Linked DNA regions of Homo sapiens. The protein of the gene in region 1 purifies or fractionates together with the protein of each later gene. This does not show direct contact. Each region holds a gene or a part of one and is shown on either strand. Other genes may lie near its edges. The genes, in order: POU1F1 and CDC42BPG.

What was found.
Region 2: the proteins of POU1F1 (region 1) and CDC42BPG purify together in Homo sapiens (affinity purification with mass spectrometry; one large-scale study listed by BioGRID and IntAct). This does not show direct contact.

The regions. Positions count from the first base shown.
Region 1 is NC_000003.12:87,259,563-87,263,376, forward strand, and holds part of POU1F1 (pituitary-specific positive transcription factor 1), read right to left. Parts: intron 2,674-3,814; coding exon 2,509-2,673; intron 1,772-2,508; coding exon 1,711-1,771; intron 543-1,710; coding exon 332-542; 3' UTR 1-331. UniProt on the Homo sapiens protein: Transcription factor involved in the specification of the lactotrope, somatotrope, and thyrotrope phenotypes in the developing anterior pituitary. Specifically binds to the consensus sequence 5'-TAAAT-3'. Activates growth hormone and prolactin genes.
Region 2 is NC_000011.10:64,841,622-64,845,963, reverse strand, and holds the start of CDC42BPG (serine/threonine-protein kinase MRCK gamma), read left to right. Parts: upstream 1-1,310; 5' UTR 1,311-1,394; coding exon 1,395-1,554; intron 1,555-1,880; exon of another isoform or gene 1,881-2,048; intron 2,049-4,059; coding exon 4,060-4,151; intron 4,152-4,230; coding exon 4,231-4,314; intron 4,315-4,342. UniProt on the Homo sapiens protein: May act as a downstream effector of CDC42 in cytoskeletal reorganization. Contributes to the actomyosin contractility required for cell invasion, through the regulation of MYPT1 and thus MLC2 phosphorylation.

The DNA.
Region 1 (3,814 bases):
CATGTTTGGAAAAGGAACTTATAAACCCATACTCATATGTCTGCGTGTGTGTGAGAAAGAGAGCGGGAGAGACAGAGAGATCATTTTATTACTGTTAATATATTTGGCTTAAAATAGATAATGTGGCTTCTGAGAATAATTATTTTAAGTAAATAACATCAATATAATTTAAATTGTTGGTTTCTTTTTTTTAAAAAAAAGTGGAAAAGTAAAGCTTCTGTAAAAGCTATTGATATAAAATGATTTTAAGTCAACCAAGTAATTTCTGTTTTTGTTGAGGAAGAGAAAGGAATGAAACGGGAGAAAAAGGCTATTATACAATAGAAAAATCTTATCTGCACTCAAGATGTTCCTTAGAAATAGAAAATAAACTCTGATTCAGACTTGTTTTCACCCGTTTTTCTCTCTGCCTCCGGTTGCAAAACCAAACTCTTACTACTTCTTTCTCCAGATTCAGTTCTTCAGCCATCCTCATGATCTCTTGAGAAGAAGGTTTATTCTGTTCTCCAAAGTGTCTCTCCAGAGCATCTTTAGCAGCAATGCTGGCGGGGGGTGGACATAGGGGGTGAAATTTTGTTGTTTTTAGTGAAGTTTTTGGCAGCTCAAAATTAAGGTAGGTTGAATTTCCTCAATATTAACATGAAAAGGAAACTTAAAAACTCTGAACACACTTGCAGGACACTTTAACAAGGACAAATGTATAATGTGTTAAATATGTAGATATTTTGTCTTATGTAAGGTAGAGTTACACGAGAGTCACGGAAAGCATTAAGTAGGGGACCCAGACTTTCTATGTTTTTCCCACTTTGTGCCACCAGAGGGCACTGAGTTCTTGAGAAGAAAATGAACATTTTCCTAGACATTTCTAAATATCTCCCCAAAATCATTTAGGGCTGTTTACGATAAAGGAAATCTCTAGTAAACAACTGACCAACCAAAACAAAACCTGTCTTTTAGTATTTGCTAAGCATGTCTCACAGAAACTACAAAAAGATCAATGAACAATCTTTCTGGGTTGAAATGCAAGAGGTCATGTTGAACTTGAAGAGACCGAAACACTGATTACTAGTGTCACATTTTTAAATACTATAGACACCATGGATACTACATTGTCAGAGCAATAAGTTATAGCTAAAAGGGGAGAAGATATGGCCAGTCTCTTAGAAATGATTGTTTTCTTTCTGTTTGTATTCAAAATTTTGGAGTAAAAGTGTTCTTGAATCAAACAATACATAATTTTCCATCAAATGTTGAAAATTATTAGCTCTCCATTTCTCAAAATTAAGTTATTACATTATTATTATTTTTTTTTTATTTATTTATTTATTTATTTATTTATTTATTTATTTATTTATTTATTTATTTTGAGACGGTGTCTCGCTCTGTCGCCCAAGCTGGAGTGCAGTGGCGCAAGCTCGGATCACTGCAACCTCCGCCTCCCAGGTTCAAGCCATTCTCCTGCCTCAGTCTCCTGAGTAGCTGGGATTATAGGCACCCACCACCATGCCCGGCTAAATTTTGTATTTTTAGTAGAAACAGAGTTTCACCATGTTGGCCAGACTGGTCTCGAGCTCCTGACCTCAGGCCCGCCTTGGCCTCCCAATTCACCTTACATTTATATGTTATGTTACACCTGCATTACACTCAAATGCTCATTCCATTTATAAAATACCAGTTTTGTCCTCTAGTAACTTTTAATATAAAGAATACCTTATAGTTGTTCTTCGTTTTCTTTTCCTTTCATTTGCTCCCACTTTTTCATTGTACAAAGCTATAATGTGGAAAAGAGAGATAATTACAAACACAAAGTAGACTTTTTATAAAAAACGATCTGATTTGGATTTCAAATTTTCTTCATAAAACAATGCAAAATAAAAATGCTAGACATTTTTGTCTTAAATTTTTGCAGTCTTTTTCTATTACAGACCTTAGAGAAAAATCTCAACGCAGAAATAAATATTAACCTTGCAAAGACACTTTCTACAAATAATATCCTCACTTTACTTTTGTTGGAATGCTTGCTGTAAATACTCTCAAACCTCACTCTTTATCAGGCTCTGACATTTGTATGAGTAGATAATTTTAGCTCATTAAGTTGCATATCTAGCAATTGCTTATATTATTTTCTTGGAAGACTGGTGTGTGCAAATGTTTTGTGTACACTAATATTAGGATACAAATGTGATTCATATATAATTTCTCTAGTATAAAAGAGAGGAAAAAAATGGATGTGTAAAAAAATAAGTATTTTACCCCTTCATGCTGATGCCAACAAGCTTTCCTTATATAGGTTATTCTATCCTCAATAAATTTATTTCCACACTTACATTGCCCTTCCTTTTTTGTTGTTTGTTTTAGTGTGATATAACAAAATGTTTATTTTTCATCTCAAAGAGAAAAGGCGGAAAAAAACCCCTCAAACCTCCTGCTTTAGCATTAATCCTACTTATTGAAGCCATTATTTTTAGGTTAAAACACAGCACAGCCTTCAGAGACACAATTTAGTACCTCCTACTTGCTCAGCTTCCTCCAGCCATTTGGATAATATTGCTTTCAGTTTGCATGCATTTTTAAAGCTGAGCTGCAGATTTTCAAATCGGCAGATTGTTGTTTGACTGAATTCAGAGCCATGCACAGCTGCCAGGGCCTCCCCAACATTTGTCTGGGTGTATCCTGTGAAGGGACAATAAAGACCATCAGCTCCAACTTTCCAGGAAATGTTAATTTTGGTTCATTGTCACACAAATCTGTGTATCTTTGTCAACTATTACACACTATTTTTTAACTATATATTCTTGGCAAATCAGAATTATTTAGTAAGATTCATTATACTTTGAAGTACTTGTGCAATACTTCAAAACATATTTCTTCTAGTTAATAAATTACTTTTATCTAGTCACTGAAAGAATTCAGATAGAAACATCTGCCATTCATAATATTTAACCAGTGTTTAGGTGTGTCCTAAACACTTCATAAGGCACTTGAAAATTATGGCTTTTTTATCATTATTGTTAGTTATCAAATAATATATGCTCAAAAAATTTTAATATATTAACTATAATGCATAAAATATACGGTTATATATCATAACATTCTTATTTCAACTCTAAAAGATTCAATGATATTGTTGAAGGGTACTAAATAAAACTAAGAATTATGTCACTTTCCCTAAAACCATATTTATTAAGAGGCTATGATTACACATTTCATGTATACTTCTGAGCCCATTTTATAGTTTTTGATAATGCCTCTGTCTTCAGACTAATGATCCTTATTGTTTGTCGCAAACATTTTTAGAGTACAGCTGAAATAACATATAATTTGAAACATTCACAGTAATATAGATAGAAAACTGAAAATGAATTTCACAAAGATTCCTACTACTGTGCTTATCACATGTAATAGCTACATATTATTTCAGGACCTAAGGCTATATACCTATATGTATAAAATGGTTGCATATGATGCCCATCAATAAATATTCTTATTACATTATCTATTGTTCATTCTGCAAGTGCAGAGGTTTGAACTATTATTTCAATCCATTAAAAAAATACACAATTTTATGCAATTTAACCAAAGTCAATTGTTATAGTTGTTTTATTTTAAAAACACTTCAGTAGAAAATGAGCAAAGGCTCTGAACAGATAGTTCACAGAAAAGGAAATATAAATGATTGTCAAGCATATTAAATAATATACTTTACACTCATAATAAAAGAAATTTTAAATGAAAAAACAGTGAGATGTCACTTTGACCTGTCTGATTTGCAAAGATCTAAAAGATTAACAGCATATTTTTTCTTTCAACCACC
Region 2 (4,342 bases), on another chromosome or scaffold:
TGAGGCTGTGGTGAGCTACGATTGCACCACTGCACTCCAGCCTAGGGGACAGAGTGAGACCCTGTCTCAAAAAAGAGAAAGAAGTGTTGTCTAGGCCGGGTGTAGTTGCCCATGTCTGTAATCCCAGAACTCCGGGAGGCCAAGGTGGGAGGATTACCTGAGCCCAGGAGTTCGAGACCAGCCTGGTCAACATAACAATAACCCTTGACTCCAAAAAGTAAAATAAAAAATCAGCTGGGTGTGGTGGCATCTGCCTGTAATCCCAGCTACTCAAGAGGCTGAGGCAGGAGCCTAAGAGGTCAAGGCTGCAGTGAGTTATGATTGCATCACTGCACTCCAGCATGGGTGACAGAGAGACCCTGTCTCAAAAAAAAAAAAAAAAAAGTGTTGTCTGAAGCCACCAATATGTCCCACCCTTTGATCTCTCCTCATGGTGCCTGGTCCATCCCAGCTGGACAGAAATCAGAAATACCACTGGACAGAGCCAGCCCCTCCCCTCCCCAACCTCCTCCAGCCTATCTCAGACCTCTCCTTGCCCTTCACGTTCCAGGTCAGACCTCAGGCCCTGCTCCTACTGAAGCTTAAAACGCCTGTGGTGTTGGTACCAGCCCAGCTCCACCTCCACCCCAGGGTCTAACTTAAGAGCCACCTTGTCCTCAGCCCCTCAATTCGCCTTCCTCCTTCCCAAGCCTCAGTGTGTCCATCTGCCAAATGGGCGTGACCATCCCTACCCCAACTTCCTGTCTCCCACATCAACTCTAATGATACAATCAAAGTAAGATTCAGAAACTTTTTTTTGGGCGGGGGCGGGGGGGCGATGGGTGCCAAGCGCGGGCAAACCATGGAGAGAGCGAACTACAATTCCCATCCGGCTCCGGGGCCGCGGGCGTCCCTAGCCCCTCTCTCTTAGCCAAGGGCAAGGCGGCTGCGACCCAGGGGGCGAGAGAAGTTGCAGTGCTCCGCGCCTCCTGGGTCAGGGCCCAGGGAGGGCCCAGGTAAGTCTGGGTCTGGGGCCGCGCGGGGATCTGGGGAGTCTTTCCGACCCCGCAGAACCCCACCGCGCCCCGCGCAGAAGTCAGTTGTTCTCCCCGGCCCGCCCCCGCACTTCCTGGCCGGGAGTTGGGCCCGCCCCCGCGCGCCTCCGCCCCCACCTTCACCTCTAGCCGCGGCTCCCATTGGCCGGCGCGCACCTGCCCGTCCGTCGGGGGGCGGGGCGCGGCGCCCAGGTGAGGGCGCGCTGGCGGCGGCGGAGGAAGGTGACAGCGGGGAGGGCGGGAGAGGGGCGGGGGAGGACGCGCGGACAGAGCCTCAGACGGTTGGGCGGACGGACGGCCCGACAGGCGGGCATGCGGGCGGCCAGACTGTAGCCGAGCAGCGAGGCTCCGGCCGCAGCCATGGAGCGGCGGCTGCGCGCGCTGGAGCAGCTGGCGCGGGGCGAGGCCGGCGGCTGCCCGGGGCTCGACGGCCTCCTAGATCTGCTGCTGGCGCTGCACCACGAGCTCAGCAGCGGCCCCCTACGGCGGGAGCGCAGCGTGGCGCAGTTCCTGAGCTGGGGTGAGTGGCGGGGCGGCACGGAGCGGGGGCGGGCCTAGGGATATCGCGCCGAGACCCCCGCACCCGCAGACTTTCCCGCAGGGACCCGCACCCCCACGGGCTTCCCTCGCAGACTCCCTGCAGTGGCCCTGACGCGTACCACCGGACCCCCGCGGCCCGCACACTCGCCTGCACACCTCACCCTCACTCCAATTCTCACACACGCTCTCTCCCTCTCACAGACCCCGACACATGCACACACATACCAACTTGTGCTCAGGTATCGACCGCAGACGCATGTACCCAGTGCACCGCCTAGAGTCCCTTACAGATTTCCTTGCTTACAGGCCACACCTGACGCAGGACACACACAGACCCTCATGCATGTCACCCACTGATACACGGGCTCTGTTTCTCCTTCCTCTCGGATGCATTGAGACACACAACTCATGGAGAGACCCAGGGAGCGCTGCAGACCACCCCGACCGCATTGGCACTGCAAAACACACAGATCTGTAGGTATCGCACACTTGCAGACCTTCCCCCCACCAACACACACACCCCCAGCTCCCTGGGTACAAGACCACTGCAGCCTGGACTCAGGAACCGATCTCCAACCCTTGGCCTGTGCAGGCTGCTGGCCAAGCTCCTTGGGGGCTGTGGCGCCGGGGCCGGGGAGGGGGGCCTAGCTGGAGATGGGTCTGTACCTTTCCTGGTAGACTCATCTGAGTCATTGGGAGTGGCTGGCCCGGGGTGACCCTGAACCCACTGTGGGCACTGGCGCCAGCTGGAGGGTTCCCTGGTCACACCCTGCCGGGCCATGGGGAAAAGGCACGGGGGCCTGGCCAGGGCGGGGTGAGGCAGGTGTTTGCCCAGTGGGCAACTAGCGTTCCTGGCACTCCTGAGCTCTGGGAAGGCACAAGGCCTGGGGTAGAGGGGGAGGCTGCCACCTAGATGTGCCAGGGAGTTGTCCCCTAGCCCCAACCCTTCCATCCAGGGCGAGGCAGTCAGAGGCCCCTGCCTCTGTGCCTGTCTCCCTGGTATGCCTCCGTGCTATGCCTGTCTGCCTGTGTTGTTGTCACCCCCCCCATGACACCCACACACGTGTGTGTGTTTGCACACACATGTGTGCTCCTCCCTGACTGCCTCCAGCACCTCTGCCTGGGACCCCGGCATGGGGGCCCTCTGTTGACAATCTCCCAAGGTAACTCAAAGGGCTGTGACTCATTCCTCTCCTGCTTGTCTCTACTTGTCCCTGCTCCTGCCCGGAGCCCCCATGCCCTGTGGGAGGCCAGAGGATTAGGCAGCCTGTCCAGGGGCCTGGATCCTCCTGCCTGTGGGCCTGGGCTTCGGCCCTCTTCTGGCGGGTGGGTCCCTATGGTGCTGGCTTCAACTCCCACGGGGAGGCCCGGGGCTGCTCCTCCCCAGCTCCACACACAGACCTGGGAAAGAGACAATGAATTTCTGTAATGAGGTTTCCACCCCGCCCCCGCTGCGGGCTTCTGCCTGATAAACCTGTGGAACAGCTCTCTGTCCCACCCACAGACCCGCCCAGCTGGCAGGGAGTTTACCTCCTGGCAGGGGGAAACTGAGGCAGGGCGCCAGACCACAGCTGCCCCCCATCCTGACTGATCACTCCTGCCTCCCTAAGACCCAATTCCTTCCCAAAACCTGGGGCTAATCCAGGCCTGGAAAGTGCCTGGGAGTGGCTGGAGTTGCCCTTCCTGGAGGTATCTGGGATGTGAGGAAAGAGGACGTTCTTGACCAGACAAAAGCTTCGTCCAGACAGGGAGGCAGGGCTGGGAGTGAGAGAGCCGGTCAGGCCTGGAGGCATCCTGAGCACTCACGCCTTCAGGGGCTAGTGCTAGCACCAGGGAAAGGCATCTTTGTCCTGTTTGTGAGTCTCAGCACCTTGGCAGACTGGCATCCATGCCTCCAGCCTGAGGGGCCCCACGTGGGAAGCATAGAGCCTGTCCTCCCTGCCCTAGGGGCTGCAGGCCTCACCCCCAACCAGGCACCTCTATGCCTACAGGGTCCCGGGACCCAGGCCCACAGCTCCTGAATGGGAGAGAAGCCTCTCTGGGGATAAGGAATGTCACCCGTCCAGTTTCCTAAGACAGGCCCTGGCCTGAACCTGTGAGGGGGCCAAGAACTGTGAGGTGGGGGTAGGAATGGTGTCCCCATGGTCCCCAGGGTGACCTGGCCAAGCAGAGTCAGGCCGCAGACTGGGCAGGACTACAAGTCCCATCAGCCCCTGGGATGGAGGCTGCCTAGAGTCTGGGGCCAGGGGTCCAGGGAGGTCCAGGGACCAGGCGGTCAGCTGAGCCCGGCCTCTGACCTTCCGCACTTCCTGATCATGGCCAAAGGAGCACCAGTTCCTGCCACAACCCCTTGGCCCGAGGCTGTCCCTGGGGAGGTCATCCCTGCCTGGGCTCACAGGAGCGGCAGCTCCTGGCTTGCCCAAGGTGAGAGGGGGAATGGAGCCCTCCCTCCCTGCACTCTGAGTCCCGCCCTGTGTCCCCTCAGCCAGCCCCTTCGTATCAAAGGTGAAAGAACTGCGTCTGCAGAGAGATGACTTTGAGATCTTGAAGGTGATCGGCCGAGGAGCCTTTGGGGAGGTGAGCAAAGGGCCTGGGGTAGGTGGGGGGAGGTGTTCACACCGGGCTGGGCTCACCCCGGTCCTCCCTGTGGCCTTAGGTCACCGTGGTGAGGCAGAGGGACACTGGGCAGATTTTTGCCATGAAAATGCTGCACAAGTGGGAGATGCTGAAGAGGGCTGAGGTCAGTGTGGAGTCTGGGGGGCCCTTGG